2 separate regions of the Homo sapiens genome follow, and region 2 is reported to be linked to region 1. Evidence: microRNA targets listed by miRTarBase, many of them from high-throughput screens and not tested one by one. Region 1 holds a microRNA gene; the other region holds the end of a gene's coding sequence.

Region 1 (4,406 bases):
GCTATACACGTTTATGGCTTAGGAGCAAGAGACTATACCATATAGCCTAGAAGTACATCTAGATTTGTGTAAGTACACTTTAGGATGTTCATACAAGGGCAAAAATTACCCAACTGCACATTCCTCAGGAGGTATTATCCCCCTCATTTAGCAACAAATGACTGTAGTTTTGTTTTATTGGATTTTTCTAAATGATTATTAAAAAAACAGAATATTTTATGAAGACAAAGGTAATGACACTAAAGTGAAGGCTTCTTTAGAAGACAGGTCAAGTCACACAATTCTTTAGTTTAGAAGGTTGAAGTGGAAATATTGAGTGTTACAGACCAGAACTTCTCAACCTTTAACATATATATAAATCATGATCTTGTCAAAATGCACATTTTGGTTGCAGAGGACTTGGATGAGGCCTGAGATGCTGCATTTGTAATAAACTCTCAAAGGATACAGGTGCTCCTAAGTGATGTACTGAATTCGGCAAATAAGAGTCATCTGTGGCCTGGCACAGTGGTTCATTCCTATAGTCCCAGTACTTTGGTAGGCCAAGGGGGTGGATCATTTGAGTTCAGGAGTTCAAGATCATCCTGGCCAACATGGTGAAACCCCGTCTCTACTAAAAATACAAAAATTAGCCGGGCGCAGTGGTGCGCGCCTGTAATCCCAGCTACTTAGGAGGCTGAGGCAGGAGAATTGCTTAAGCCTGGGAGGCAGAGGTTGCAGTAAGCACCATTGCACTCCAGTCTGGGCAACAGATTGAGACCATGTCTCAAAAAAAAAAAAAAAAAGCCATGAAACAGTATGCTGTTCAGGGTTTACGTATTATCTATTTACGTATTTCAAAAGCCTTACACAGTATGTTGACTTATAGAAGTTCTCAATGATTATTATGGTGATAAAGTTTCCTTAGAGAAATTTTATCCCATGACTCTTAATATTTTGATCATATCTACCCTGTAAAAATCAATAAAAAAAACATGGTCTGACAAGCGCCAAATTTTTATTCAAATGCATGTATCTTTGCACTTTCTAAATTCCTTTCACAGGGCTTCTAAGATTCTTAAACCTCTTAATTTTTATACATGCTGACACTGTTAATGAGCAGAAATCTTAAGTTATTACTGTAAATTCCAAAGTTGATCATTGGTAGAATTTTTATTATCTCCCAAATCTGTAAATTTTGAATGATTTTTTCCCATGCCTTCTATTATACTGTACTCTTTTTCAGAAAGGAATACATTTTCCATTCCCAAAAAAGAGGATGGATTCTATTGCATAAACCTAAATGAGCTGACTACTGGGAGTTATAACTTTGTCATGGGTTTACTGGCCTGGGAATGTACAGTATAAGCGTGTGTTGTTCCCTAGGGGAAAGGTTTAAGTGCAGCTAGGACCACCTGTTGCTAAATGTTTCCTTGAGTAGCTCTTAGTACAAAAGGGGATGTAACCATTAATGTGTAGTTGCCTTCAGCCAAAGTGAAGTGGGGAGTATATACTTTTATGCAGATGACATTAGCACATAGACATTTGCATCCTAAGATATCAAAAGAATTAGTGACATTCTCCCTTTCTCATTCTCAATAGGGTTATACAGCTGTAGCAATTGCCTGTGGGCTATAAAAATAGACACTAGATGTTCTGGACCATGGGCTTATGAACCATGGGTACGGAAGAGTATTTTGAAAACCCTTCATGTGTAGAATCTGAAATAAATGTGCTTGTTGAGATTCAATAATGTTTGCCGATACCCATGTAGGTGCCGGGGGAACCTAAGGAAGAACCTTAGGGAGGCTGCCTTTTTGTGTGTGGAAGTGGAGGGAATGTTTCAGGACTTTTCCCAACAAAATTCAGAAAGAAAATCTCTGAAAATTGTTTTGGTGAACCCATGACAACTATTTCACTGTACTGACAATTTAGAAAAACAAGACACACGCACACACACACACACACACATTTCCCAGAGCAAAAGTGGACATGAGAGTATCTAGAAAGAGAAAGTGATTTCTCACAACACTGCTTCCATATTGAACTCTTTAATGTCTTTTGAAAAGCAAGGTCGGCCTCAGAACCATGCAGGCCTACAAGAATTCAACCATTTGTTGGTCTTTTGTTAAGATATTGATTAGATTCTTGTTCATTTCTTTGCAAGCCTCCCAGTTTAGTCTATTGATTTGTCTAAGCTTTTTTTCTTAGAGTCTTGAACTAGGTCATCGGAATAACTCTTAACATTTAACTAGAGTCATTAAAAATAAACAGACATTTGAGAATAGTGTAATTGGTTGTGAAGGCATTTCCAAGGTGGAAAGGCCAAAGGTGGCAAGGCAAGTCCTTGTGGGCATGTTGTCTTTGAGACCTGACTTACTCTGCAGTTCTCCAAGACAACTAAAGACTTCCTATAGCTTCAGGCAATAATTTGTCCGAAGACTGTTGTAAGAGTTTGGCTAAAGAAAACCAGAAAGCCTATGAAAACATGGCTTACTAGTAACACATCCCAGCTGTTTGCTCCCTGTTAAAAAGTAGAGAATGATGTGTTCTGGAACGGCTTAAGTGCTCTGCTGTGTATGTTTTTAGAACTGTACAGAGTCTTAACAGCATGAGTCCTGTTCATTTTAATCAGAGTTGTGTGGTTTAAACTTGTCTCTGAATCCAGCTTTTTGCTATTGATATGTCATGTTTAGTGTATAGTCTCTGGAATTAGGTTATTGCCAAATTTCTATTGTGTTTTTGGTGATCATGATCCCTGTGATTTTCTTACTCATCCAACTCAAGTAGAAAGATATCTTTACATCTCCTGTTAGAGCATAGGTTCTTTGAAGACAATATATTACTCATGTTTTTCTTACCGTGAGCAATAATCCTCAAATCACTGCATGCATAAGAGCAGCAGAAGAATCACCTGGAAGGCTTGATAAATCACATATCACTGGGATGCTGCATGAGAGAGTGTGATTCTGTTGGTCTGGGGTGGAGTCCAAGAATCTGCATTTTTAACAAGCTCTCTGCTGCCAATTCTGAGACCTCATTGAAATAGCACTGCCTTGGAGCCCTGCTCCACAGCCCTATCAGGCCACTAATTATATAAGATATTTTATAACACAGCCTTTACTACTCTAAAATGAAATCCATAGATAATATAAACTACCCACATACTTATCTTTAAGTCAATATAATGGTCTAATTATATTGTAAAAATAAATTGCAAATGAAATTAAGAGGAAAATAATTTATGATAAAATAAGTATTTCAACATGTCAATGTTTGGACATAACTACATTGGAAGATATAATTAAGTTGTCATGCTTATACTCATTCATAGGATCACCTTAAATGTCAGTTACAGATGTAGATATGTTGTGTAGCTACTAAAAATAATGACTAGGGTTGCCTTCTGTGATGTGATTTTCTGAAATAGCAAAAAATTATTGAGAAATTGCCAAACAAAATAAAGAATATATTTTCTCAATGTGTCTGGTAGTTGCTATTAATACAGTGTAAAAGAGATACTTTGTATTTATATGTAAAATGAATTTAAGTTTTAGGCTTAATATATAAATATGTTTTTCACCCACATGAATGTCACATAAGACCAGGTTCATTCTTCATTGTGTGAGACTATTCCGCACATTGTAGAACATCTACAACTCTAGGTCCTACTCACTGAATACCAGTAGTGCACCTCAATCTCCAAGTTCTTCTAATGCCTAAGGATACACCTTAACTAGTATATCTTCTTTTTTTTTAAGTTCCGGTGTACATGTGAAGGATGTGCAAGTTTGTTACATAGGTAAACATGTTCCATAGTGATTTGCTGCACCTATCAACCCATCACCTAGGTATTAAGCCCAGCATTCATTAGCTTTTTCTTCTGATGCACTCCCTCCCTCCACACCCCCAAAAGGCCCCAGTGTGTGTTGTTCACCTCCCTGTGTCTATGTGCTCACATTGTTCATCTCCCACTTATCAGTGAGGACATGCTGTGTTTGGTTTTCTGTTTCTGCATTAGTTTGCTAAGGATAATGGCTTCAGCTCTGCCCATGTCCTTGCAAAACACAGGATCTCATTCCTTTTTATGGCTGCATTGTATTCCATGGAGTAAATGTACCATATTTTCTTTATCCAGTCTATCACTGATGAGCATTTGGGTTGATTTTATGTGTTTGCTATTGTGAATAGTGCTGCAATGAACATATGTGTGCATGTGTCTTTATAATGGAAAGATTTATATTCCTTTGGGTTTATACCCAGTAAGGGGAAATGTGAGAAAATCTTTGCTATCTATTCATCTGACAAAGTCTAATATTCAGAATCTACAGGAATTCAAACAAATTTACAAGAAAACCGATTAAAAAGTGGACAAAAAAACATGAACAGACACTGCTCAAAAGAAGACATTTCTGTGGCCCATAAAC
Region 2 (4,406 bases), not on the chromosome of region 1:
GCAGAGGCAAGAATATGGCTCACTGCAGCCTCAACCTCTTGGGCTCAAGTGATCCTCCCACCTCAGCCTCCCGAGTAGCTGGAACTACAGGCAGGCACCACCATGTCTAGCTAATTTTTGTATTTTTTGTAGAGATGGGTTTTACCATGTTGCCCAGGCTGGTCTTGAACCCCTGGGCTGAAGTCATCTGCCTGCCGTGGCCTCCCACAGAGCTGGGATTATAGGCGTGAGCCACTGTACCTGGCCTTGGTTATCTTTATATCTACTTTTTCATCCTATCCTAATCTTGAAAAAATTTCCTCATATTTAGCATCATCGAGTGTATGAGATAAGACAATTAGTCAACATTTCCTGGCAACTAATGTGAGAAAACAAAACCATAAATGGAAAGAAAAAAATTAACATTCAATAAAAAATTTTTCATTGATTCATTTGCAAAAATTTCTTAAAACAAGAAATAAACAGAAAAGTTACGTATCTAAATATGAGACAATCTACAGTGCATTAATCATTCTTGATTTGGGAGAGTATGTAAGTGTGACTGGCTGATTGAGGTATCCAGCTTGTTGGTGTGTAAACAAGCAAGAGCTGCCTTAAGGCCCAGTGTGGTGGCTCACGCCTGTAATTCCAGCACTTTGGGAGGCCACAGCAGGTGGATCACCTGAGGTCAGAAGTTCGAGACCAGCCTAACCAACATGGTGAAACCCCATCTCTACTAAAAATACAAAATTACCATGGTAGCAGGCGCCTGTAATCTCAGCTACTTGGGAGGCGAAGGCAGGAGAATTGCTTGAACTTGGGAGGTGGAGGTTGCAGTGAGCCAAGATCATGCCATTGCACTCCAGCCTGGGTGACAAGACCAAAGCTCCATCTCAAAAAATAAAAAAGAGCTGGCTTAGTTTATTCCAGGACCTGCCCCCAACTGATACGTTGTCCCTCCCACCCTTACTGGGTGACAGATGTCTTCATAACTTCTAATTTAGATCTCATAACTTTTCATCCCCTCTTAGTTATGAGAATTCTGTCATGCCAATGTTTAAGATTTTGTTCAGTCCATTTAAGCTTCATTCTCACATATGATACAAACTTCTCCTTACTTGACTATGGGATTGTCCTTTCGATGCGCTTGCTGCTGCCCTGGCTAACCCTGCATGGTCATCAGTACCAGACTGTCATGGTTCCCTCTGTGTGGCATGAATTTAAATGCTGGCCACTTGGTGGAGTGATGGTCTGTTTTCACTCACGACACTTCTGACACCAGATGTGTGGATTTTCTCCCCCCAACAGCTGACCAATTTTCCAGCTTTCTGGACACCAGTTGGGTGCCCTGCAATTCAATTCTTACACTAACCTGTCTCTCCTTATCTACAATAGATTGACTTATTTAACCCAAATATACATATAAAGTCGTTTTAGAATTGCTAAGCCATGCCTCTGTGAGATACAAATTTACCAACCAGAGTGCAGTTTTTGTATACAGTTCTTTGTGTCCTTATCTACAGTTATAAGTCAAAACATTGTTTTCCAACTTTGTCAGTTCTTTTTTCCCCATCCCTTTCAGTGAGTTGATATCATACATTTATAATACAATTAGATTCATTTGCCACAATTTGCATACCATCCTGGGTTCCCTTGACAGTCTGTTCATTTTTAAAAAATTTGCATACAATAAAAGCCCCTTTGTCTAGTGTACAGTTTTTTTTTTTTTTTTTTTTTTTTGAGACAGAGTCTTTCTCTGTTGCCCAGGCTGGAATGCAGTCCGCCTTCCTGGTTCAAGTGATTCTCCTGCCTCAGCCTCCTAGTAGCTGGGACTACAGGCGCACACCACCATGCCAAGCTAATTTTTGTAGTTTTACAAATATGAGAGACAGGGTTTACAAATTACAAATTAGAGACAGGTTTACAAATGTTAGAGACAGTAGAGACAGGGTTTCACCATGTTGTCCAGGACAGTCTTGATCTCCTGACCTTGTGTTCCCCTGCCTCGGCCCCGCAAAGTGCTGGGATTACGGGTGTGAGCCACCGCGCCTGGCCATGTGTATAGTTCTTGTGTTTGCAAATGGATATTGTCATGTATCCACCACACAGTACCATACAGAACAGCTCCATCAGCCTATTCCCTTTGCAGCCCCTTTGTAGCAAACTTCCCTCCTTTTCTCAAACCTGACAACAACTGATCTGTTCTTCATCCCTATAGTTTTGCCTTTTCCAGAATGTCATATAAATAGAATCGCCCAACATGTAGACTTTTAGGCCTAGCTTCTTTCACTTAGCAAAATGGATTTAAGATATGTCTATATTATTGTGTGAACCAAGAGTTCATTTTTTACTGTTGAGTATGGATAAACTCAAGGAATGGATATCAACAGCTTATCCAATCACCTGTTGAAGGATATCTGGGTTATTTCTAGTTTTTGGTAATTATGAATGAAGCTGCTATAAACAGTCATGTGCGAGTTTTTGTGTGAACATAAGTTTTCAGTTCACTTGCGTCAATTTCTAGTAGTGAAATGGCTGGGCCATATGATAAGTTATGCTTATAAGAAACTGCTGAAAAGTTTTTCAAAGCTGCCCTGACGCTTTGCAATCCCATCAGCCACCAGTGAGAGTTCCTGTTCTTCTTCATCCTTACCTACATTTGGTTGCCCACACTTCTTTTTTGTTTGTTTTTTTTTTTGAGAGGGAGTCTCGCTCTGTCACCAGGCTGGAGTACAGTGGCACAATCTCGGCTTGCTGCAACCTCCACCTCCCGGGTTCAAGCGATTCTCCTGCTTCAGCCTCCTGAGTAGCTGGGATTACAGGGGCACACCACCACGCCTGGCTAATTTTTGTATTTTTAGTAAAGATGGGTCATGTTGGCCAGGCTGGTCTAGAACTCCTGGCACCAAGTGATCTGCCCTCCTCGGCCTACCAAAATGCTGGGATTACAGGCATGAGCCACTGCACCTGGCCTGCCTACACTCTTTAAAATGGAAATTGCCCACCCCACTCCACTCCAACTTCTTCCTTCCTTTTGACCTCTGACTGGATTATACAATAATCTATACTCTTGCTTTGCAGCCTGTTGGTATTAATGAAGGTAATAATCTTAGACTACTGTGCACTACTTTCCTGCTTTCTTCACAGTTCTAGGAAGCAGTTTCAGCAAACATTCTTAGGCTGGTACAGGAGATAACCACACTCTGCTTGAGAAGAATTCCCTTCTGGAATTCCCAAACCTCTGCTTTTGTGTGGCCTCTTAGTTCACTGCTCATCTCAGCCTCTTTTTAATCTAACCAGTGAATCCACTGAAGCACTAAGGTGATCACGGGTCTGCACTAGACTCTGCAGTAGTCAATCCTATGGGATAGACTACTCAATGTGGCTTTATGGCTGGGTACCTGGGTCTTCATTCATCAGGAAGGAGCTGAGTGCCAGGCCCCTGCTCAGAGTCCCTGCCTCCTAACTTGGCAGTTAGCACATTTTCATAGTCACTGGAGTCCTCATTTGACATCTCTTCTCTATGTTTCATCTGACTGTCCTCACTCTGTGTGAATGGCTGAAAGTCTGCATAATCCCCTGAAGCAAGGAATGTCCTTTTGACACATTGGACATGGGTCCCGGGATCATCTGTCTTGTCCTCGACATGACCTATGTTTGAGGATGGCACATCTTTCTCAGCCTGCTGCTGGCTTCCACTGGGATCTGCTGCTGGAACATTTTCATAGTCTCTGCAGCACTGAAAAGCCACCCAGAGCTGCCTTTCCTGGATGGCACTGAGATCCAACCCTGTCATGTTGACATAGTCATTTGAGATCTGAGAAGAACCTTCTCCATTGCTGAGTGAATCACTGTCCTCAGCTCCTGGAGAATACAAACTGGTGCAGTCACCAGCATCTCCACAGCCCTCATCTCTTTCCTCAGTAAACTCCAGCTTCTGGGTACTGGGAAGAACAAAGAGATTTCTGGAAGGGCTTTTGGTAGAAGCTAGAGTCTCAGCAATCTCTTCTGCTGTGGGGACATTGACATAATCATGCGAATCCTCTGAAGAAATGCTTGCGCAGTCTCTGGAAGCTCTGACATTGATGCAGTGTGCCGAGGGAGTGAGGTTCCCACACATCTGGGGGACCATGGCGTTGTCATAGATACCCACCGCGTACTCTGTGGCATGGATGTGGGCTGTATGCTCCTGGAAGGCATTGCCTGCTTGGGAGGGCTATGAAGAAGAAAAGGAAGCCAGTGGTCAGATGCAAGCAGAAATATGGACAAAGCCTTTCTTCTTGGAAAATACCACTGGCATATTCTGAAAAAAAAAAAAAAAAAAAAAAAAAAAAGAAGAGCAACAGTGCAAATGTGATGATAAATCACAACTAGTTTTTGGCCACAGTATGGGAATCAATTGGTGGGGGGGTGCGGGTGGGACGAAA

What was found. The annotated mature microRNA hsa-miR-8062 reads CAGUGAUUUGAGGAUUAUUGC and lies in region 1 at 2,846-2,866, opposite strand. An mRNA with a match to its seed (bases 2 to 7 or 8) in the 3' UTR can be bound and repressed. Matches are read on the target gene's strand: a 7mer-m8 pairs with bases 2 to 8, a 7mer-A1 pairs with bases 2 to 7 and ends in A, and an 8mer does both.
Region 2: miRTarBase lists LAX1 as a target of hsa-miR-8062. Seed matches in the 3' UTR shown: 7mer-m8 at 1,776-1,782.

Annotation. Positions count from the first base shown.
Region 1 is chr20:7,370,078-7,374,483 of GRCh38, reverse strand. It overlaps MIR8062 (microRNA 8062), which reads right to left and starts at 2,876; the gene lies at 2,792-2,876.
Region 2 is chr1:203,773,664-203,778,069 of GRCh38, reverse strand. LAX1 (lymphocyte transmembrane adaptor 1) reads right to left here. Exons shown (of 5, transcript NM_017773.4): 5 at 1,698-4,195. The coding sequence ends at 3,389. Among named protein-coding and RNA genes, the nearest start is that of LAX1, 11 kb to the right of the region's middle.